3 separate regions of the Homo sapiens genome follow, and all the other regions are linked to region 2. Evidence: fine-mapped expression QTL. A gene starts in region 2. Each other region holds a variant in brackets. All regions are shown on one strand. Distances are from middle to middle. Region 1 overlaps PPARGC1A (PPARG coactivator 1 alpha). Region 2 holds the start of PPARGC1A (PPARG coactivator 1 alpha). Region 3 overlaps PPARGC1A (PPARG coactivator 1 alpha).

What was found. PIP is the estimated chance that this variant, and not a neighbour inherited with it, causes the effect. A credible set is the group of variants that fine-mapping cannot tell apart.
Region 1: its variant is the best candidate, but not a certain one, in a credible set for the expression of PPARGC1A in monocytes (TOPMed, PIP 0.72).
Region 3: its variant is the best candidate, but not a certain one, in a credible set for the expression of PPARGC1A in blood mononuclear cells (TOPMed, PIP 0.68).

The regions. Positions count from the first base shown.
Region 1 is chr4:23,852,124-23,860,123 of GRCh38, forward strand. The region is part of intron 2 of PPARGC1A (PPARG coactivator 1 alpha); the gene reads right to left. Among named protein-coding and RNA genes, the nearest start is that of PPARGC1A, 34 kb to the right of the region's middle. RefSeq lists an enhancer at 344-513. The variant C/T (reference allele first, on the strand shown) is at 3,341.
Region 2 is chr4:23,885,738-23,893,737 of GRCh38, forward strand. It overlaps PPARGC1A (PPARG coactivator 1 alpha), which reads right to left and starts at 4,310. Exons shown (of 13, transcript NM_013261.5): 1 at 4,167-4,310. The coding sequence starts at 4,220. RefSeq lists an enhancer at 409-985.
Region 3 is chr4:23,862,662-23,870,661 of GRCh38, forward strand. All of the region lies in intron 2 of PPARGC1A (PPARG coactivator 1 alpha), which reads right to left. Among named protein-coding and RNA genes, the nearest start is that of PPARGC1A, 23 kb to the right of the region's middle. The variant A/G (reference allele first, on the strand shown) is at 4,695.

The DNA.
Region 1 (8,000 bases), 34 kb before region 2:
GGAGGCAGACCACAACATTTTGAATTAAAATGTAGAATTATTTCATTCTTTCTAGCTCAAGTTTCAAACTAGAGGTCTTCAGGAGGAACCAGTCCAGACATACGTTTCATTTGGTGAGCATGGTTTTGCCTACAAAAGGTTTTTAAACATTATTAGATTACTTAACAACAGTTATTGAACCGCAAATTGTATCTGAAATTTCTGCTTTTAAAAAATAAATCTGAAGATCTAGAGAAGCTGGGATTTGAGGAGGAGCTGATCACTTTACAGAGAGGCTGCTCTCCTCAGATTTCCACTGTCTCCACCCCTACAGCCCTGACATAGAATTTTCATGGCAGTCTTCATTGTACTTGCTCCCCATCAAGGCCACATCACTCATTCTCTTTCCTGCCTACCTCCCATGAGCACTGGAGTCACTCTCCTCTGATTGTCGTTTTAAAAATCCACCCTCCCCCATTTTTCTACCTCCACATTTTGGTATCTTCACTATAAAATAGTTTTCTCCGTTTTTTTTTCTTCATAGAAATCCTAAAGCTTAAGATCCTATTCGAGTTCTCTTCTCCCATGAAATATTGGTTAAGCACACCAACATAACTCTTTTAAAGTATTATACAGCATCATGCCATGTTTTATACTTACCATATAAAGCCTAGTTTTTATCTTTTCGTGAGCACATTTTTATCAGCCTTTAGGGAAATAGATATGTACAAGACACATGACCCAGACAGGCATATGCATGTGTGCGTGTTTGCACATGTATTTGTACACCAATTATTTCAACTTCCAGCTACATCATCACTGCCCTAAAAAAAAACTATAATGCACTTTGTCTTTTGCAGGTTAACAGGATGGTCTGCATGAAATAATTCCAATCAAAATTATTTGTTAATTTGATTCTGGAGCTGAGAGATTTCCTTTCACAGGTTTTCCTTTTTATATAAGAAATTTGTAAAAGAATTTTTTTAATTAAGCATTTAGCATTTAGGATACTGGTTTTCTATATTAGAAGAAGGTTTTCATTATAGAAAGCAAAATACAATCAAAATTTTTAAATACACAAAATTTCATAGTTCGATTAAAGGAAAGTACAGAAAGGGGTTAGTTTTTAGTGGCAGGCACTCCCTAGAACATCTTTTAAAGGGGGAAAAGTGAGAGACATGTAAGATAGAAACATGGTACAGAAAATAAAGCATAAAACAACATTAACTTAGGGTCATTATACTTTATGTGTTCTATTACAATGGTCCAAAGGACTATTACTTGTTAAAGAAATGAAAATAAAGACTTCCTAAGTTACATCTGCTATGTTACCTCAGATCAATGAGACACATTTTGAGGAGGTACTCAAATGTCCTAGATGTGTACAAGAGGAATCTCAAATTTGGAGATGGGACAGGTTTCCATCATATTTGAACCTGATAAGCACTTAGGCACTGTGAATTTTCAGTGGTGATAATGAGGAGGGATTTCTGTAGAAAATTCTTTGCTGTACCTGAAATAAACCCTTATCCTTTATACTCTCACCAAGAATATTAAGACAATAACAACTGCCTTATATCTCCTACCCAGAAGGATAGACAGAAACTTGATAGGATTATGAGACATTTAGAAAACTATCTGATAAAACAACGATTTAATTTCTGGAGTATCTTCCACATGCAAGTCAGCATGTAGTAAAGCACAAGACATCTAGAGAAGACAAACAATAAAGTAAACAAGGGTACAGGTTCTACAGTCAGACTGCCTGGGCATGAATCCTAGCTCTGTCAATTACTAGGATTGGGGACCTAGGGCAAGCTACTGAACTTGTCTGGGACCAGTTCCCCATACACAGGGAAGATAATGATAAAATACCTGCCTCACAGGTTGTTGTAAAAATTAAATGAAACGTATAAAGTGCTTAGAATACTGCCTGGCACATAGAAACCCTCAATAAATATTAGCTATTGTCTGTATTATTTTTATTAGCCTCAAAGAGTTTATAATCTAGTCAAGGGAGTGAGACAGGAGCAGTGAAAATACAACTAATGACACAAGGCCATGTGTACATGACAAGTGTCAGATAAGTCAGTCCGATACTGAGTGTTAGTTCTGAGAAGAGAGAATCATTTTTAGTTTTAAGTAATGTTGCCAGGAATCCAGGCAAGGGATTTCTTATCAGGTCACAGAATTTTTAGCATAGTTATGTTATTTTGGTCATGGAAATCCCTTTGAAAACAATTTCAGAAAAGGCCTCTCCTAACCTTTGGGTGTATTAAGGCATCCAGATTTTCCCTCTGACCTGGGAAATGAAGGCACATCATCAGCACATCCAGACTTCATATAAAATTTGATTATGGTCCTATCCAATTACCGGAAATTCCTACAAGTTTCCGATGGCCTCTCAGCTGTGTCTGGCTTGACTGAGAGGCCATACAGTCCAACAGTTCCACAGACTTGGCCAAGAAACATAATTTGAGAGAAGGAATAAGAACTATATAAATGAAGATGGCCTTGTCCCACAAATATGAGTTTTTATACTGAAAATAAACACTGTACTAAACTGTTTGGTTCAAAGGCAAGATTCACCTTTAAAATTTTTTTTTACTGCTGTGTATTTCCTGAGGTTGGAGTGTGTCATTCATTTTTATATTCCAAGTATCTAATACGATGCTTGGAATATGGTAGACACCGGGTAAATCCCAGATGGATGAATGAGAAGCTATAAAGAAAAAAAGGGGAAGGAAGGGAAAGAAAGGCCTGTTTCCAATATAAACTAGGTTGAAATACTTTACCAGCCTAAGTGATATCCTCACCCACTGATATGATTTGGCTGTGTCTCCATCCAAATCTCATCTTGAATTGTAGCTCCTATAATTCCCACGTGTGTAGGAGGAACCCAGTGGGACATAACTGAATCGTGGGGGCGCACTCCCCGATACTGTTCTCATGGTAGTGAGTAAGTCTCATGAGATCGATGGTTTTATAAGGGGAAACCCCTTTCACTTGGCTCTCATTTTCTATCTTGTCTGCTGCCATGTAGGATGTGCCTTTCACCTCCTGCCACAATTGTGAGGCCTCCCCAGCCATATGGAGCTGTGAGTCCATTAAACCTCTTTTTCTTTGTAAATCACCCAGTCTCAGGTATGTCTTTAGCAGCAGAGTGAGACTGGACTAATATACCCATGCAACCCCTGACCCTTCACTGTCTTATTTGAATCTGGCTTTTACCACTCAAGACTTTTAATGTTAGTTATATTTTAAAATACTTATCTTTACTTCCAAATAGATGGTAAACTGGAACATAATTGGCATTCAGAAAGCATTTGTCAAATATATGAGGATTACTTAGCTAACTGAA[C/T]GCTCTCTTGGGACAAGCAAGGACCTACTATGCTCGATGCTTCTAAAAATGCCTACTCTTGTGCATTGTATAATGTACTCCAAAAAATAATTTCAGGTTTATTTAATTCCATATTCTGCATGCATTTAATATATGCTTAATAAGCACCGACTATATTTCAGACACTGAGTTAAGTAATGATACTGGGTTAGTGACAACCACAGCCCAGACCCTTAAATAGCTTCTCATCCCATGGGAGAGACAGGACAAATAAGAAACAGGCAGATTGAGAAATCCTGGGAGAATGTAAAGCTTCTACAGGGCCCACATCAGAGGCACCTAAGCTGTGGTAGGGTGCCAGGTGTTGGTGGTTTGGGAGAAGTGATGTAGGAGGGGAAGTCTGGATTGTTATAAGGAATTAGGCTGGCAAAGAGATGCAGGAAGGGATGTGCTACATCAGAATGAAACAATAAAATTTAAACACAGAAAAACCAAAGTGTCACCAGACTCAACATATAGTAGACACTTAATAAACAATAATTGAATAAATAAATTACTGCACTAGTGTTATGTCACTTGAAACCATCTGACATTGAACTATCCCCAGGTTCTCCCACCATGGACAAAAAGTGACATTTGGAAATGTGTTGCAATAGTTATAATACAAAACAAAGCTTGTATATCTCCTATTCCCACCCCATAGAGCTCCCACAGTATATACTTGAGCTTCCTGACTTTCCAGAATGTGCCAACACAACCATAAAGAAAATCAAACAGCAATCATTGCAAATGCCAAACGCTGAACTTTTGCAGCCAGTATTCCAAGAAAGAATTCTCTGTGCTTATATTTTTTGAGGTGTAGGCCACTTCTTGGTGTTTTCTTACCAGGGATTAGTCATTGCAAACACTGTTGACTAAATGTGGTTTGTTTTAACATACAAAATGCCTTTGTTCGTTGGCTTTCATCAGCCCCATCAGAGAGAGGCCCGGGCCATGCTCAAAGCTGCAGGACACTCGGAGAAGTCACATTGTGATTGCTTGTCTTCCCTCTAAAGGTTACATTTCATGACAGAGATTAAACGTCTTGCCCATTCTATGATTGCTTTTGAAAATTATGCACTAATGATAGCCACTCAGCAAGTAGCTTAGTCATTTCCCTTTAGCCTCTGTAGAGAGAATCCCAATTTGGTCATTTCTCCAACAAATGTTTCTTGGGTGCATATCATGTGCTAGAAACTGCTACATGCAAGATACAGTGGCCTATAAAACAGGCATGGCCCCTCCCTCATGGAATTTACCTTTGATTAAAGGTACACATTGAATACATACTGGGGAGCCAATAACAGAAGCCGGACTCTCCCTTCATCACCGAGAGGCTGGCACAGAGCCCAGGGGCAGGCTGTTGAACACCTTCTCCCTGGAATTTGAATCTTGACCAGCATGCTTGTGCAGTTTTGTTCCCAAGGACACTTTCCGTTTTACAGAGCTATCCAGGAAGTTCAAGGTATTGGAATGTCAACAAATTGCCATTTATTGACTATCAATTAAGTGCAAGCATTGAACTATGTACTTTCCTTATATTATTTCTACATATATTATTTGAAAACTTAAAAAATGGAAAGGCTAATGTTTCCTGGCAGAGACACACAAATGATTTCTCAGGAATAGCAAATACATGTAATTATAGAAGGTAATGTAACAGGTCTCTCCATATTCCCAGAGCCAGTGCACCACTGGACTCACAGAAGATGCTCATCACTGATGTTCTATAGGTGTTTCTGGGATTCCTGTGACAATATAAAAGGCAACAAGTGCATAGTGACAAATGCCAAAGAGATGCAGAAACCACAAGATGGAGGACTCGCCTTTGGCAAATAAAGCCAGGGATGAAGTTTCATAAAATCTATTTAGTATGTGCGTGTGTGTGTGTGACACACACACACACGCACGTACTAAATAGATTTTATGTACTAAATAGATAAATATACATTTATCTGCATATGCATACAGATAAATGTATATTAACTAAATCATAAGCACTAGTTTCAATTCATGGAATTTCAGAGGATAGCCACTGGGTGGTAGAATTCCCACTGTTTAGTTGGGAACAAGAACCCCATTCTTTTACTTAATGTCAAACACTTTGTGCTGACAGTATAACTCATCCAGCTTTAAGACCTCAGAACTGTCACTGGTTGTTTCTTGACTGCCCAGTAGATTTGTAAATGCACCACACTTTCCTTTCACAGAATTATCCCTCCTTGACTGGATACACACCGAGAGCCAGTAAGCAAAAGCCTCACACTATTCTCACCACTCCAGGGCTAGCACAGAATAGGGAAAACCTATTGACATTTGAATCGTGATGAGACTCCTCTTGCAGTTTAGTTCCCAGGCTCCAGGTCTTTTAGGTACTAAGCCTAGTTCAACACCCTCTCATCAATTCCATCAGCCATACATATCCTTCTGCCTTTCTGCTTGAGGAAGCTAGAGTTGATTCTTTGTTTTCTATTCCATTGTTTGCAACCAAAGAACTCTAAATTATAAAAACAACTACTATGGCTAAATTATAAAAACAACTACTATGGCTAAATACTACTATGGCTTTCCGTGGAATGAAATGGTTCTTGGAAAAGTAAAGGACTTATTAATATTACATTTGCTATCTTTATAGATTCAAGGAAAGGCAAAAGCTATTACTTCCAGGAGTTTGTAGACTTTGTCTTAATTCTGTCAAAATGCATACCCCCTCTATTCCAGGCACTATACAGGACATTTTCAATGCATTGTCTCATTTAATTTTAACAACAACCAACTAGAACATAAGCTCCAGGAGGGCAGGATTTTTTTTACTCCCTGGTTCACTACTATATTCCTAGAACATTTTCACACATGATAGGTGATCAGTAAATGTTTGCTGAATGAATAAATAACCCTGAGGCAGGCACTATTTTACAAAAGGAGAAAAAAGATAATCATGGTCCTACTGCAAGTCAGTGGTAGAGCTAAGATTTGAAAGGCAGGCATGTCTGACTACAGGGCCCAGTCTCCTAACCATCTTGCTACCATTGCCTTTAGGTTCTTGGGATACAAAGAGAAGAGAAGGTTGCTGACCTCAGGGAATTTGGGCAAGCCCCTTTAAGTCCTGGTTTCCTCATTGTGAAGTAGAGATATGTCCCTCATTTGGTTTTTGAAGACCTAAGAAAGTCCTGGAAAATGCCACATAGAGATGATATGTGAATATTGGAAGTCTGTCTAATGTTCAGAAAGGTAGAAAATTGACAGTCAAATCTCACCTTTGTCATTGCTAGCAATTACCTGGCAAACCTCTTAACTCGGAGACTCAGTTCCATACTGCAGAACATTTGCCTTTTAGCCTTTTTAGAAAGACAGGAAAAATAACTACAAGTTTTATGGACTGGCTGAGTTGAAATATAAATACAAATTAAGGTATATAAATATATACTTATATAAATATAAATTATATAGATTTAAAGTGTAAATTTATATTTATATTTTGTAGAATAAATTAAATATAAACATAAATTAAAGTATGTAAATATAAATTTATATAATACAAATAAATAAGTTTATAAATATAAATTAAAATAGTATTGTAATAACTTTTAATACTAGCCCATTCCAGTACATGATTCAAATACATTATCAACTCTGTGGGCTTTCCAGGGAATATTCCCAGGGAATGTAGTAAGAGAACACTCAAGCATCATTTCAAAAACTATTCTTTAGGTTGCCTCTGTTAATTAGTGAAGAGTTTTAATGCTTAAAATGTCAGTCCCAAGTTAGGCCAAGACAAGATTCTTAAAGATGATGCCAACCCATTCAGACACAGAGCCACTAGCGAGCCATGTCAGACATGATCTTTGGCTTGTCCAATTATCTCTAGTTGGCCTGAATGCTGAAAGTGTAAGGGGAAGGTACAGGTACATTTAGGGTCTTCCAGCAAAGGAAGGAGAGAAGATGTATTCAAAGAAGAGGGAAGGAAATTGGGAGACTGCAAAGAAGAACATTAACAAAAATTCAAAATATTTAAAATGTAACACCACGGTGGCTCACGCCTGTAATCCCAGTACTTTGGGAGGTCGAGGTGGGTGGATCACAAGGTCAGGAGATCGAGACCATCCTGGCTAACACAGTGAAACCTCGTTTCTAGTAAAAATACAAAAAATTAGCCCAGCGTGGTGGCGGGCGCCTGTAATCCCAGCTACTCGGGAGGCTGAGGCAAGACAATGGCAGGAACCTGGGAGGTGGAGCTTGCAGTGAGCCGAGATGGCACCACTGCACTCCAGCCTGGGAGAGAGTGCAAGACACCGTCTCAAAATAAAATAAAATAAAATAAAATAAAATAAAATAAAATAAAATAAAATAAAATAAAATAAAATAAAATAAAATAACACCAAAAAAGAGAAAGAATTTTCATGTAGCCTGGTCAATAAGGAATATTCAAGTAGCACAGAAAATTCAAGAAGAATGGGGACCTGAAAAAGGGCTTTTGAGTTAGACAATTAAGAAATCTTTGAGTAGAAGGTGGGGCATAGTAGCTCAACCCTACAATCTCAGTGCTTTGGGAACTCTACATGGGAGGATTGATTGAGGCCAGGAGTTCAACAGCAGCCTGGCCAACATAGTAAGACCTTGTCTTTACAAAAAATTTAAAAAT
Region 2 (8,000 bases):
CCATCACTATATTTTGTTCATTATTTATGTATATCTAAACTGTGCTCTACGTGAATTCAAAATAACTATTTTTGTTTAGAGTTTTAAAATAATTTCTACATATTGAGAGGTTTAAAATATCTCTACCATGGCTGGGCTGCTTATCACCAAGATTATTTTAGATTGTCAAAGCATTTCATCCCCTTACATGAAATAGACAGTCTTTTTAACTGTTTTACCATGCGGCTTTTGGAGGCAAGTGGACTCCCCTTACCAATGAGGTGGTCTCCTAAACTTGAATTGGCTACCTAACCGCTAATGTCAGTCCGCAGACAGTAAAGAACACTGCAGGAACTCCTATTGCAGGGGTCTGGCATTGCCAGAACAGTAAGGACTTCATCCACCTGTAAGTGGGGGTGTCTAAATCAGGAGGCACACACTGACGCAGCACCCTCATGGCCCTGCCTTCCAAGGTCAGGAGAGATGCTGTGGAATTGTTCACATCCAGGCTGCAGTTAGGCATAAAATGAAAGATGCTCCTTGACATTTACATTTTGAATGAAATAAGTTTTATGCAGATTTTCTTTCTCAAGCACCCCTGTTATCCCTGGCAGGGATTCCTAGCAGGCCACATTACACAGGTCATATGCAGCAGCGTGATCAAAAGCAACACGCTGAGAAGTAAGTACTGGGTAATGGAGTCAGCAGTTGGTAAGGGGAGGATGGGGGGAGACTGAAAATCATTGCCATCCTTCTCTAAGACCATTGGACCCCAGTGAGATCCCTGGCAGCAGGGACAAGGGAATGCAAAGAAAGGGCCCTCCTCACCATCAAAACTCTTTCCTTATCATTTTATTGGTCTTTCCTTTTATTATCTGAGTTAGCCCAAAATTACAGATCAGTATACTTGACAAGGCATATAAGTAACTGGAGGCTGGGCTGAAGAGATCTCGTTCTGGTACAATGCTCATATTTGGTTGTGGATGTAACACTGCCCAGACTCCATTCTTGCCCACACAGCTGATCCTCCAAGCCCAAACACACTATCTTAACTTTTCCTCAATGTCACCAATTCAGAGATGGGGGAGAACTTTTTCAACGGTGCAAGATACACTAGGATTTTATAGGGGCATAGTCTTTAAAAAAAAAAAAAAAAAACATGAACAACAAAAATAGCAACACAAAAGTAAAAATAATCAAGAAAATGTAGGCTGTCTACATATGGCTTAAGTTCCTGTTGTGAAACTTAGGAACCAACCATGTTTTGGAATGCTAAAGTAGCATACTGATTTGTGGACAACTTCTTCCTGTCCCTCTCTTTAACTGCCCTCTTTGGCATGACTTGCTCATAACCCTTTAACCTTCCATAAATATGTATTTTTAAATAACTTTTGAAAACCATTGAAAAGACCAGGTCAATTTGTTGTATTGGTGCTATCTTGTCATTTACATATTCCTTTCCTTCCTCTCACTTGTTCGCTCGTGCGCTCTCTCTCTCTCTCTCATTTTGCTTTTATGTTATGGTTGAGAAAAGTGCATGTGTTCTTGCCAATGTTGACATGCTAATAAAATCTGTGCTTCTGAATGTGGCATTATCCTGCTAATCTAAAACACATTAGTGGTAGCAAGTGTTCCTGTTATTAATTTATATTTGGCCTTTGGACAATGCCAGACTTAACAGTCCAAGCCCTGTAACTGTCCTCATCTGACATGCTGATATTTACTGTTTCCCTATACCTCTGTAACAGGTGTGCTTTATTGCAATTACACAGACACATTCTACTGCCTCTTTGCAACTATGACAGCTATTTCACAACTGTAGCCTCAATTTTATAATAAGATTTAAGAGGATAAAGCAGTCACTAAACACAAAAGGCTAATTATTGTATGTTATTTCACCCCAACAGACTTTTCTCTTAGTTAAGGAGCAGACAATAAATTAGCTTAACTGCACTGATGATAATGAATCATTATAATTAAGTATAATTCTCCATTAACCTTTTGGAGGTTTTTGTGCCATTGATGGTAAATTTTAAAGAGAGAGAGAGAAGAAGGAGTGGACTTGGCCACATTAATTATATTAATGAAAAAAGAAACTGGGTTCTTAAAAAAATTAGTTAAGACAGGGGAAAGGGGGTGGAGAGAGGGGCAGTAAAGAATGACAGTCTTAGTGGGGTGTATGTCATGTGAATTGTCTCTATCAATCTTAGTAACCTTACTGTATATCACCTTCATTAAACTGTGAAACACGGGGCACTCCAAGTAGCTATAGTGATATAGGCCTATATTAACCAATGTACTACCCTGTCATTATGTGCAAAAGGGCATAATACGTTTTAGGATGACAGCAAACATTAATGATTCAAAAAATGAAAACTGCCAACGCTACCTGCTGCTCGTAATATTTTATACAGGCGGAGGTGATTCCCAGAGCCGCTGCCATGTAGGCAAAGCTTCTAGCAGCTAGCTGCCTATAGTGCAACAGAGAAGTGACTGGCCAATCTCAGCCGACTGGCGACTCTATCCATGGCTGGACAAGTAGCCAAGACCTTTCCTCCTTAAGAAAAAAATTTAAAGGCCACTATTCTAAATGCTTCTGATGTTTATTTGAAAATGACTGCAGGAATTCCAATGATTAAAATAAATCTTCCTTATTTCCATATGATCTAGTTCCTCAATCAACTCCTAACAGCATCAGGAATAATACATGATGGAAAAATGAAACTACAGCAGCTGAGACCCACAGTGCCAGCCAGACAACCACCCACAGGACACTCCGGCTACTCAAAGGCAATTAGGACTTTGAAGCCACTTATAACCCTGACTCATAATGGCTACAGGGCATATGAATTATCCATATCTATTCCGCCTTACCAAGAAATCAGAACAAGATAACAATTACAATCCACAAATACGATCTACCAAGGCAAGGGAGGGCAAATGGAGCCAACATTTGCAAACCCAGCAAAGAGTTAAGAATCCCGGGCATGCCTCGCTAGATAGGAAAAATGCATTCACAGACGGCCTTGGCCAAATTATTTTCACTTTAGATGTGTATCGCTGCACCACATGGACATCTTATTTAATCAAATCACGTGTGGGCTTGATCCTCCCCCTTACCCTACGTGCCCCCAGCTACCCAGAGGAAACACTCGCAGTCTTTTGCCAGATTCATTGTTAGCAGCTGGGATCCTCCATGCAATTCAATTCGAGTCCATCTCACCAGAGTCCACAGAAAGTTTTGCTTGTTTCCCAAGTTGCCCAAACTTTCCTTCCGAGAGCATTCCATTGTGCTGAATGCAAACACGCCGAGGTCCTCCGTCCCCCCACTAGACTCCAGAGATTACGAGGAAACTGCTTGCGTTATTTTCCCCCCTGTATGAATTGTAGCCAGCAGAGACTGTGGAATTGATGTATTGCTGTCTATTTTTACACTAGCAGCGAGCAGCTCCACACACAGTCCTGCATAAACTCTATTCTCTCTCAGCTTCAGGCAGCTCTCCGTGGTACAGGAAGATTTAACCATTGGCTTCCCTGCCACCGACGCGAACGGAAAACCTTGCACTGCCAGGCGTTTCTTTTTATTCGCTGGCCAAATCTTTCAACCACGTATAGGAGTTTTAAAGGAAGCAGCATCGTTGTTTTGTGTTCTGTGGGAAAAGCAATCTAAAATAGCCCAGCAGGATTATTTAGGATTTTGTAAGTTCTCTGTCTGATGAACAGAGAGAGAGGGGGGAAAAATCCGGACTAGAGTCAAAACGGACTATATTTGAACACATCCATTTTAATATTTTTATCTTCGTCTTATTATAAATAGAAATGGCATTTTTCCAACCAGGCCACTAAACACCACTGGAAAGACTTCAGCTTCTGATTCATATCAATATCTTAGAGCATAAATATTGCATATGAGTAGAAACAGTGCCAAAGTCACATGGAAAGAGTTTCTAACTGCAACAGATACTGATGACAGCAGCTAAGCTTTGATTTGCTCAAGCCATCTCAGAGCCACCTTAAAATAGCAAACTTATTGGAGTTAAGATAAGATTGAGATTCTTCTAAAAGCTCCTGCCTGGACTACTTTCCTGGCTCCTCTCTTTGCCCAAGCCCATCCCCCCTTACAGGAATAATAGCATCTGAGGGAAGCGTCAGTTGTGGCTGCAGCGCCGAGCCCTGCCCCAGCTCACCTCGATGTCACTCCATACAGACTCAGAGTCCTGGTTGCACATGTCCCACGCCATCCAGCTCCTGAATGACGCCAGTCAAGCTTTTTCAACTCCAATCCACAGTGACACAGAGCACACACTCATGCAGGCAACCAGCCCCTTACTGAGAGTGAACTGAAGGCACCTGTCTTACTACAGTCCCCAGTCACATGACAAAGCTATTAAAAAGTAGGCTGGGCTGTCACTCACCCAGCCTCCCTTCCCCTGTGCAGCTTGCTGCTCTAACTCGTGACGTCACTCAAAGGCAGCCCTCTGCTTCAGTGAAGTAACGCTTTAAAAAAAAAAAAAAAGAAAGAAAAAGAAAAGAAAGAAAGAAAGGAAACACTTAGACTTTTGGAGGCTTCAAGCATCATGCTGTGATTAAAGCCAGCTTTGAATGCCACAGACTCTAAACGGAGCCCTGGCCATATAATAACCAAAATCCCCTGCAATCTTTTTTTAATTTATTTTCCTTCCAAAACAAGCAAGTGGCAAAGCTCCCTGTTTCATGACAGAGTAACTATATTCTTAGCTAAAACGTGTATTCCCTAAGAACTCTTTAATTCTAAGATCTCCAAGTGGACTCAAGCTCAGTTTGGGACTAAAGCAAGAGCTTATCACATGATGCATTTTTATGAGACATTTTCTCATTGAGGGAGTGTTTGAAAGCGCAAACGGGGCTTTTTTTTTTTTTTTTTTTTTTTTTGCTTGTTTAATCAACAAAATAGCCTGTATGTGTTAAGGTATAAACAAACTCCTCCACCCAGAATTCGGCTGCCCCCATGGCAGTAGGGAATACCAGCTCCCGAAGAGTTGCTGCAGTTTTCTTTGCTCCATATAAGGAGAACAAGCCACAAAACCCCATCCTTTCAGCTTCCTTCTAATTATTTCCATTTCTCTCATAGGCTCCCAGAAAACAAGTGTTAGTAAATACAGTCGCTGCTGCTCTGCTCAGATCAGCTTTGATTCCCGGCTCCTATTTTTCATACATGTAGCGTTTCCTCCCTAACTGCCTTAGGGTGCCTTTTTGAATAAACATTGAATTCCAACCCTAGTGCCCTGGGTTGTGTAGTTTGCGTTTTGAAATCAAGAATGTCTGTGAACTGAGGGAAAAATACCAACACACTATTAGCAGAAATATTCAATTCCTGAGCTTTACTTTCTATTATTTTTCAGCTTGTACCTTGAGACAATGAGGGCTAATGCAGGTAGGTGCAACTGTTTTATGATGACACTACATATTGAATACATAACAAACTCAAGGTACTGGACACAGTGGAAAAACACTTCCTGTAACATGACAGTGGTCTGACTTAACCCTTCCAAGTTCCCAGGAGATGTACACGTGTATGTATCTGTGTGAATAAACATGTTTTCATAAAATGTTAAACCCAATATACTTTTAGAATCAGCTCAATTCTTTTACTTGATAATAATTTACCTGAAAACAATCCCCCAGTTACCTAAATATAATTTGTAAAGCATTATTCTACTGAGGTTAATTTACACTGTTCTTCATTGTCCATCTCCTTAAACAGAAAAACATGGTTATTTGCCCTAACACATATTTTAAATATTAAATTGCTCAAATATTAAAGTGAAAGAAAGAACAAAAGAAACAAAATACCAGCAGACTGCTGCTTCTTTCAGACCATACATATTATAAGAGATTTGTGTGCTGTGAGAGCTGCAACAAGTTGCTAGTAAATTCCCAAATAATGTAAGGAAGTTGACAGTTTATCATTACTGGGCATAAAAAGGTGGCCAAGAGCTTTGACATTTTAAGTTTGCTGAATACAGTTCACCAGCACATTTTCCCTTTTATAAACAGCAGAAAATTACTGTAGTTTTAATTTTCTAATGAAAGAACAGGAAAATACAACCTCGGGAATGCTTTTATACAAGCAATTAGTGGCATTACTCTGCACTCCCCACAAAGAAACACTAATTTTCTTCCCAATTATATTCTGATTTAATGTAAAACTTCAGTAAATTATTAAAATTCAGGACAAAGGTCATTGGCTCTGCCCTCAAGGATCAACTGTGAAATAATATTGGTCACCTGGCCAAGAAGAGTCAATGTTTATTAATTATTATCATGTGATTCTTCCATTGTGATATTCACTGATACCTTTATTTGTGTTTATCCAATGCTAGATATTCATCATATTTTTAAAACCTATTCACATCTTTTAGAGATGTTCTTTACATTAGAACAGGCTCGTTATAATTTTTGATATTCTAACCTGCCCAGATTGTATTGTTAGGGTTTTCTTATTTTTTGCCATCTAATTCTACTTCTAAAAAATCAAATCAGCACATGCACTGAAACCAGAAGTGATTTCAAATACACTTGTGTTTTCTTCACTCTCACTATCACAAAGAGGATGGAATTCAGAAGTAACAACATTTAAAAGACTCATAAACTACAGTATATTGCATTTCCCCCTCAAATTTCTATTACTGGACAAATCAAAATTAAATAGATTCCTAGGACAAATTAGAGTGCTTTCCACGATATTTTTTTTTTGTCTTAAAACTACAACTGTAATGAGAGGGATGTTTTAGAGGTTTTATAATTTTGTTAATTAACTCTTCAGATTAAATTTTTTCTTCAGTCCAGTTTTTTTTTTTTTCTTTTCTCAGGAGAACTTAAATGGTTCATTGCTCACCAACCTTGGTTTTTTTCTGGTTCCCCGGGCCATTTCTCTATTTAATTCTCTCTCTGCTTTGACTATTTCTCTTACTCTCTACCCACAGCCCTCCTTTCACCCCTTCGTCAACTCTGTCTCCAAAATTCCCAAATATCTGGTTTCAGACAACAAGGATCTATTGAAACCTTACTGTGTGCACAGCCATGTATCACAAGGACTGCCAAGAAAGCATATGACATGGACACAAGAGAGCTTACAATTTTAGGGGGATGACAACCCTTAAAAATGGGGAATAATTTGGTATGAAAAACCAACGTCACTTGGATCAACACCCAGATTCCTCTTCTACTGCTTAAAACACACCCTGGTGAGATACAAGTTCCTTTCATTGACCACTGCAGTTCACACCCAAATCAAACCCATTTTTTCTCAACAATAGAAAGAGGTATTTATTAACATCTGCTGAGTGCCCCCAATGTTGCATATCTACACAAAGCCTACATTCCATCCTGATAATTTCTCCCCTCTGTAGTTCTGTTAACATTTTCCAGGGTTTCAATATTAGTAGAGGCAGGAGAATCTATCTCGAGTTGCTAACAAAGAGAAAAAAAAAAACCTCAAGAGAATAATTCAATTCTCTAACAAATACGTTGACTGAAGTGTATAACATTTGGGTTTCCTTCCTCACTCCTACTCCAAATTAAAGGCTTTTCCCATCCCTCCATATTTCAGACAACTGCCCATTTCTAAAAATTAGAATCAAATTCAAACCCTCAAACTCAAAAACCTCAGAGAATAGCAAAAACAATTGGTTTTGTTGTCTATATTGAATATAGGTGATTTCAGAAGCAAACTCAGAAGAGCTATTAGGATAAATATATTTGTTCATTTGTTTTTATAAGTTTATAAGTTTTTATTTTAATAAAACAAACAAAAAACTACCAGACTGCTGCTTCTTTCAGATCATACATATTATAAGAGATGTGTCTACTGTGATATCTGCAGCAAGTTGCTAGTAAATTCCCAAATAACGTAAGCAAATTGACAGTTTATCATTACTGGGCATAAAAAGGTGACCAAGAGCTTCAACATTTTAAGTTTGCTGAATACAGTTCATAAGCACATTTTCTCTCTTACACACAGCAGAAAATTACTGTAGTTT
Region 3 (8,000 bases), 23 kb before region 2:
TTTTAACATTGTCTTAAGATGTTGAGTCCAGTGCTGGGCAAGCCCAAAGCTACTGTAGTATTATTATTATTGGCAAGAAGAAGCCTGGCGAATTATCAAACTCAAAGCAAGAGAAAAATCTTTACTATGTGGGGCAAAAGGGGATCCCTTAAATCTTTCCTCCAGTTTATTTGCCAAATAAACAATGTTCTTGAAGACACCCCTCCTTATCAAGCACTCCATGACTTCTCCAGAGCTCCATCGTCGCATATTGTTCATGGACTTCCTTCCAATAGCAGCCGCCCCACCTGCTTTACAATCTGCGCATCACATTCCTCTCTGCGCCTTCCCTGAAACATGTCCTCTTCTCATTCTCTCATTTTTGTTAACCAAGCCCAAATTCTCCAAATCACCCAAGGTTGAAACCACAGCCATTTTTCCTCCCTTTTTTCACCACAACATCCAACCTATCACTTAATATGACAACAATCTTTATTGATCCTTCCTTCGGGAAGTCTGCCATATGCATTCCTTCCTTTCATTGTCACCATCACCCCCTAATTCAAGCTCTATGACCTCAAGCCTGAAAACCTCAACAGCTTCCTCACCAGGCCCCTGGTTGCAAGCTCTAAGATAACCTTTCTTCGCTGATGCCACCAGATAACTTTTAAGAGTCCCTGGTGTCTAACAAACCCCATATTGTCTTTTTTTCTGCTCCTCCTGACTTAACCTTGATATTCTTTATGCAAGTCACTTCACATGCCTGGGCCTCAGTTTCTCCATTGTGAAATGAGCATGCTAGATGAAATCTCCCCTCATGTTAATTTAGTACAATTCCAAGATCCCATTCACTTGTATCTACTTTCTCTGCTGCTCTATTAGATGAGTCCCCAGTCATCACTTGGTCTTTCCTCACCACTACTGTGTTGCTCATAGCATTGTCTCTATCCTGTTCAGTTTTTTATTCCAACATCTAGCATAAATCCGTGCACATAGTAGGTGATAAATATGTGTTAAAATAATAATGAGATGAAAGCCGACGTCTAAAATGCCCACGTTTCCTCTCCGTCCATGGAAATCTCTCTACACCTTGAAGATCTGTATCTTTTTTGTTGTTGTTTTTTGAGACAGAGTTTAGCTCTGTCACCCAGGCTGGAGTGCAGTGGCGCAATCTCAGCTCACTGCAACCTCTGCCTCCCAGGTTCAAGTGATTCTCCTGCCTCAGCTTTCCCAGTAGCTGGGATTATGGGCGCGTGCCATCACGCCTGGCTAATTTTTGTATTTTTAGTGCAGACAGGGTTTCTCTAGGTTGGCCAGACTGGTCTCGAACTCTTGACCTCAGGTGATCCACCTGCCTCAGCCTCCCAAAGTGCTGGGATTACAGGTGTGAGTCACTGGACCCAGCCTTGAAGATCTATTTCAAAGGCAACCTCCACCACATTAGCTTCCCTCTTCACTCATAGGTTTCACAGATCTCTTCCCACCTCTAAAATTCTTAGAGTAGTTTGTTAATATCAGGCCAATGCTCACATGTTTCCTTAGTTTTTAAGGACACTGAAGGCAGGGGCTAATTCATTGTCTCTTTTATTTATATGGTGCCTAGAACAGGGCTTTGTCCACATTTTACTATCTACATTTTACCCATTGTCTGATTGTGTCACCCGGGTAAGTCTTGCCTCCTTATACAGCTGGGCATCCCCAAAGGAAGGGAATCCCAAGCCCATATACTTGGTCTGTAATTATCATGGTTTCCGGCAAAATTCTAGGTACACAGCAGATGCTGAAAAATAATGTTTGGTTTAACAATCAAGTATGGTATGTGTGGGGTAGTATACCTTCAGGAGTAGCAGCAACCAGCCCTGGCAGGGGAGAGGAAGGCTAAATCACCTAAGTATGAGTTACTGAGGGTTCAAAGGAAATGATGGAGGAAGATGGTGAACATGCACTCAAGAACAAGAGGAAAGTCTTTCGCAGCAGACTGTACATGGAGAACAAAGGACAGATAGAGACAATGACCCCAAGGCTTGTGGTTTTAGGGGGAAACAGCAAACTGGTTTCTGATCCCTGGGAGCACATAAACAAGAAGTTAGGCAACCTGGTGTGTGCTGTATTGCAGAGTCAGCCTTGTGCTAAAGATTAACAGCCCGTCTTAAAGGGGACTAAAGATCAGCAGCAAGCTTGCAAAGCACCAAAGACCTCATTGACAGCAGACGGCAGTTGCAATTGCAACCAGCAGTTCTCTGCAAAAAAGAGGCACCACTGGCCAGGCACGGTTGCTCACGCCTGTAACCCTAGCACTTTGGGAGGCCAAGGTGGGTGAATTGCCTGAGCTCAGGAGTTTGAGACCAGCCTGGGCAACATGGTGAGACCCCATCTCCACTAAAAACACAAAAAATTTGCTGGGCATGGTAGTGCTCGCCTGTAATCCCAGCTACTCGGGAGGCTGAGGCAGGAGAATCACTTGAACCTGGGAGGTGGAGGTTGTAGTGAACCAAGATCATACCACTGCACTCCAGTGTGGGCAACAGAGTGAGACTGCCTCCAAAAGAAAAGAAAGAGTCACAGCTTGATCCTTCAACCATCAATGGACCACCTCAGTCAAGCAAATATATCCTTGAACATGGCAATGTGACTGGCCAGCGTTTCTGAGGATTCCTGATAGAAAATACCCATTTCTTCTCTGACACTGAGGAGAAGCAGTAAGAACCAGGAAATCTGAGTTCTGGTTAAATACTAAGTCCTAAGTTCCTCATCTGTGGGAAGACAGAAATCACACATAACCAAGGGTAGTGATTGACACTTAGCACGGCCCCAATAAAATGTTTATGAGAAGGCTGGTAATTCAGGTAGAATCAGATCTATTAAGAGAGAAGACCCATGCATGGTGTCTGGGACACAGTAGGGACTCTATAAATGTCTTAAAATTTCCTTGGGTGGCATTCTATCAACATGGGTATCTCATTTCTGCAGTTCAGTGACAAGTCTCCTTGAGGACTGAGGCCTTGTGTTAGACACCTTTCCACCTCTTACCGCACCTGGCATAACACCTTGCACATAATAATATGAACTCAAGAAATATCTGGCGATTAATTGCCTCACAGGTAGCATCTGCGGCTGAAATCTATTTCACACTAAATTGGCAAATGCAGGCTTCAGAATGTAGGTAAACTGGTCAACCTGAGAACAGTCTTAAACTTTGATGATCAGCAGCATGGTTTCTGATGAAATGAGTGGAAACTAGTATATTGTTAAGTGTTGTAATCTACACATGCAGTTATATGGCTTAAACTGAGACAGCCCACATTTATTCCTACACACACACACACACACGCACACATGTACATGTGCACTTAGAAGGTGGTGAATAATAGTTGATGAAGTTGTTTGTATACACTATATAGAGACAGACAGACAAGAATTGACAGAGCAATAGGCTCACAAAGAGTTGTGAATATGTAAGAAAGAAAGATACCAGGAATAGCCAGCCTAGTGTTTTAAAACTGCATTTTCTTTGCTTTCTGCTTTTAAATTACACACTGCAAAGTCACTGAGGAGAAAGCTTTAAGAAAACTTTCATTTGCTATGGTACAGCTCGCCTTTCTTTACCTAAAAAAAATAAATAAAGCCCTAGAAACATTTCTTTCTTCTCATAGACATTAATAATGATAGCTTGAACTGTAAAGATTTGGTTTTACTGAAGGTAATGGAGTAATGTTTATTTCCATTAGACTAGGCCTATAAAATCCTCTTTTTATAACCATGAGCCTCCAATTTCAAAACAGCAAAGCTTGACATTTTGGTCTCTGACAGGCAACACTTAATATTGGGATGTTTTAAAAATCTATATGAAAAAAGCTCTTAACACAAGATAGGCCGAACATTTTCCCCGCAAATGGTTTGTTTTAGCTATCTCTCTTCCTCCCTGATGGACCAGGAAAATCAGACAGCTTATTGGCTTAGTTTGTTAGGCCAGGTTAAAGGGATGCAATGCCGAAAGACTCTTACAGGAGCTTACCCTTGAGCTAAAAATAGCAGGCACTAGAGAATTATCTTAAATACGACCAAACTTGTTCGGTACTGTGAATGCAGATAACTGTAATACGTTTCCATTTTGGGTCATTTCAGAGCTTTTTTTTTTAGCTTGGCTTGCTGTAGCTGACTATTTAATTCATTTCTGATTCTATTTGTCACATTTGCTCTCAGAGATACCGCCCGGGGGTGCTTGACTCAAGAATCCTTCTTATTTTGCTGCGCTGCTTTTGTTAAAACCTAATGAGCCATTGAACTGCGGAGTGCAATGTAGACGGGACTTGTTAGAAGGCAAATTTATTTTCAAATGTTATTAAGAACCTACTATGTGTATCCTTTTTCTTGTCTTCCTCCTAAGAGGTGGGAAGTGCAGTTTGCTAAATTTTATAAATAAATAAGAGGGTATTTAACTTCTGACTTATTGAAGACTCACGAGTAAAAAAATCTAGCAACAATTATCAAATTTCCTCTCTTCTCACCCTTTTCACGGACATTTTTACTCCTCTATGTGTGTCTTCATGGTACTTCATTTCTGACTTTAATACAGAATGCATCCCCTTATTTTATAATTAGTTGCCGAAGTCTGTCTTTCTCACTAGCCAACCAACTCCTGAAGGGAAAATTCTGTGTCGTAGGCATTATGTACTTAATACATCTTTGTATTATGCGCACTTAAATTAGTGCCT[A/G]GCATGTAGTTGTTGCTTTTTAAAATAGTTGATAAATGGGTCAGTTTAAGAATGAATGAAATCAGTCTCTGCATTAGAGCATCCTGCATAGGAACATACTGAATTATAACATGACAGTCAGACTAAAATCCTGGACTGGGTAGACTGTCCCGTCTAAAAAAGATAACTCACCAGCTTTTGCTAAAATAGCAGTGATGTCCATATAGTCAATTGTACTACAGATACCAGAAAAGGGCAGGGAATTAAGGTGAAGGAGATCCTCTCTCTGCTATTTTTGCATCCTGGTTCCAATGATCACAGACTATAAATGAAAGTAAGGTCAGAATCATTCACAACTTCTGAAAGATCTGAATGCCTTGAGAAATTACCCATCATTCCCCAGCCCAGGATTTCTTTCTAGCCCCTAAGCTTGATTCTTCCAAAAATAAGGCAACTGCGATACAAGTATGGCACAGTAAACTTGTACAATCATGCACACTTTTCCACAAGAGGTAAACTGTTTTCATTACAATCGTAAACGAGGAAACTACAACAACAACAACGACAAAAACAGTTGCAAAAATTTTAAGTCTGAATCCATTGAGAGGGTCAAAACCAGCCAGGAAATACGGGCACAGTGCTGGGAACAGCGTGTTGGGAAGCTGTGGCCATGCATTTGCATGAGCTTCCTGGGAACAGCGGGTTCCTTGAACAGAGACACACTTACTTTCATGCTCTGGAACCCCGGTAAGGTACCTGTTCCTGAGCTCTTCATTGAGTGGCAGAGCCCTTTCCTCTTCTCGGGGAGAGAAGAGTAAATGCTCTATGTCTTCAGTAGACATATAGCAGCGCCTTTACCCGCCAATGCACATTCGCTTAACACAACCACATGTCTCCCAACTCCATATATCTTCATCTGAACAGCAAGTCTTGTAGCTGAGTTAGGGGGTAAGTTCACAGACACTCTGGCAGACACACAGCATACTGCTGTCACTATTGGCTCTGTTTATAAACCATCTCTTGGAGAACATGTTCTCAGATCTTGGATATGTCTTATTTTTAGCATGATTGGTCTGAATGGCTGGGAAGGTCATGTTATATTCTCTCTCTCTTTCTGAATTTGGTAGAGCCCCTGTAAATCTGTCCATTAACAAAAACTAGAGAGAGTTTTAATGTGCACAGCTTTGTGCTAGGGACTGAGGAGGTGATGAGGTCCCTCTTTCCCTCATGCAGTTTATAATGCACCTTGAGAGATTTAGCCAAAAAGCTATTACTTAGAAAGCTGAACCACAATTCGAAGGCCTTAACGAAAGAAAAAGATGCTCTTTTGCACATGTGACAACAAAAATTCACTTTGTGCCAAAGACGGCCACAAATACTTTCCTAAATTTCGGGACTTAATAGTTTATCCCATGCCTGGTAAAGGCTTAATGTAAACACAGACCAAAACAACCAGTCTTTAAAATAGCATATTGTGACAATACCGTTTATGGAAATGGTGTCTATGGAAAGTTTCCTTTCAGTTCTCATTCCTTAAGACTCATTTCCAATGGCACTCAAAGGAAGACAGATTTAATTTCTGATAACTCCCAACTGCACACCTTATTTTATCCCTGCTTCTGCACTTAATTTGCATGGATACTCTCCTTTCCACTGCTTGGTTTCATGGAGGGTGCAGAGATGGCAGGGCAGCCAGCCTTGCACACAGCCTGGAATCAGCTTGTATGTCACTGGATGAAAGGTCAGGTGAAAAGGCTCACCACTGGCACCATTAATCTAGTCACTCAGGGACCATCCAGTGGTTCAAGAATAGCTTGCAGGTGAGTGATGGACAGGGTCATGGCTGCCTGGCTGTATCAGGGGCTATTACGACAGCCATAAAGAGAAAGGAAAAAATTGAACAAGGGGAAGAATTACTCCTGAAAGAGACATGAGGAAAGACACAGATGTCTTCGTACAAAGGATAAGCATGAGAGAAAGTAGCAGGGGAGCTGGACTGCTCACAGTGGTCGAGGAGGGCAGCATTCTTTGAAACTGCCAAAGTTTGAATATTAATGAAGGGTTGTGGCCCGACCAAGGCTCTGGGTCCGTATAGAGAATCTTGAGCTGTGCATTCTCAGGTGAAAGGTGCCAGAATCAGTCAAGAGAGTTTGGATAGAGAAGATACAGCTACAGCATTCCCTAGGTTTTTAGACAGAAATTAGATTTAGGAAGCCCAGTCCTGTACATTATCTGAAATTCTTTATCCAAAGGCAAGTAGCAGATCTTAATGACTGTTTTGAAAGCTCTAAGGTTGTTCATTTATTTATAAGAGTCTCCAAAGGAAAATGGCACGGCGGGGTGGGCGGGGGGGCAGTTAGTCTCTGTAGTGATATTACGATTTCGTATGCTCCAGATGAATATTTACAAGTGAGTTGTGCATTGCTGGGGTGGTGGCTTATTTGAGGACTGGGTAGGATAAATACGGAAAGCCATGAAGGAGAAAAGTATAGGCGATTTCATTCTAAAGTAATGTGGGAAATTGCTTACTTAACGATAACTCTACTGAGCTATATTTGTCTTGACCAACGTCCCTGTAGCCAAAAAGCTTTACTATTGATAAGGAAAAAGAATCCAGTGGTCTCTTTATTCAAGAAAATTTCAATAGCTGTATTTTTAAGGGAAGATGTAATCTAACAGATTATAAAATGAAGTTCGGTATTTCATGGAGCATTTTCTTCTTTATTATCAAAGTCTACACAGGAAACACTTACAGGATAATATATAAACTCCATTAAAATCTGTTAGATCTAAAACTACGTGTTTGTGTTTGTATATATGCCTCACCTATTTCCTCACATGATCAGGCTTTAATCCACATAGGCACTGGTGCAGATAAATCAAAGAACTTAACTTGCTTAAGCACCAAACTTTTTATTAAAACTTTTTTATGGAAAGATTTCCGAATCACGTATTTACATATTTTCCCCACTTTAAAAATTATGAGGATTGATTTTGGTAGCACTGTCTGGTATTGCAAAATGACTGTATGGACCTATTGAGAAATATAGGATTATTTTCCCTCAAACTAAAAGGCCCCAGACTGTCATATTTTCAGGGTTTGTCAACTTTCTGTAGTTTGTAGTCTTGTCTCTTTTGGTCAGTTGTCACTGCTCACCATTATCTTTTTACTGTCACCATTTCATGAATTTTCTAAACCATTTCTTCAAATGTCATATGTGCTCATAGAACATCACATATTGAATAGAACATTAGACAACCGGATTCATTTAAATCATAAGTAAAGCAAAAGGAAGCAAGCGTTAAGTGAGGGGTGAAGAAGTGTAT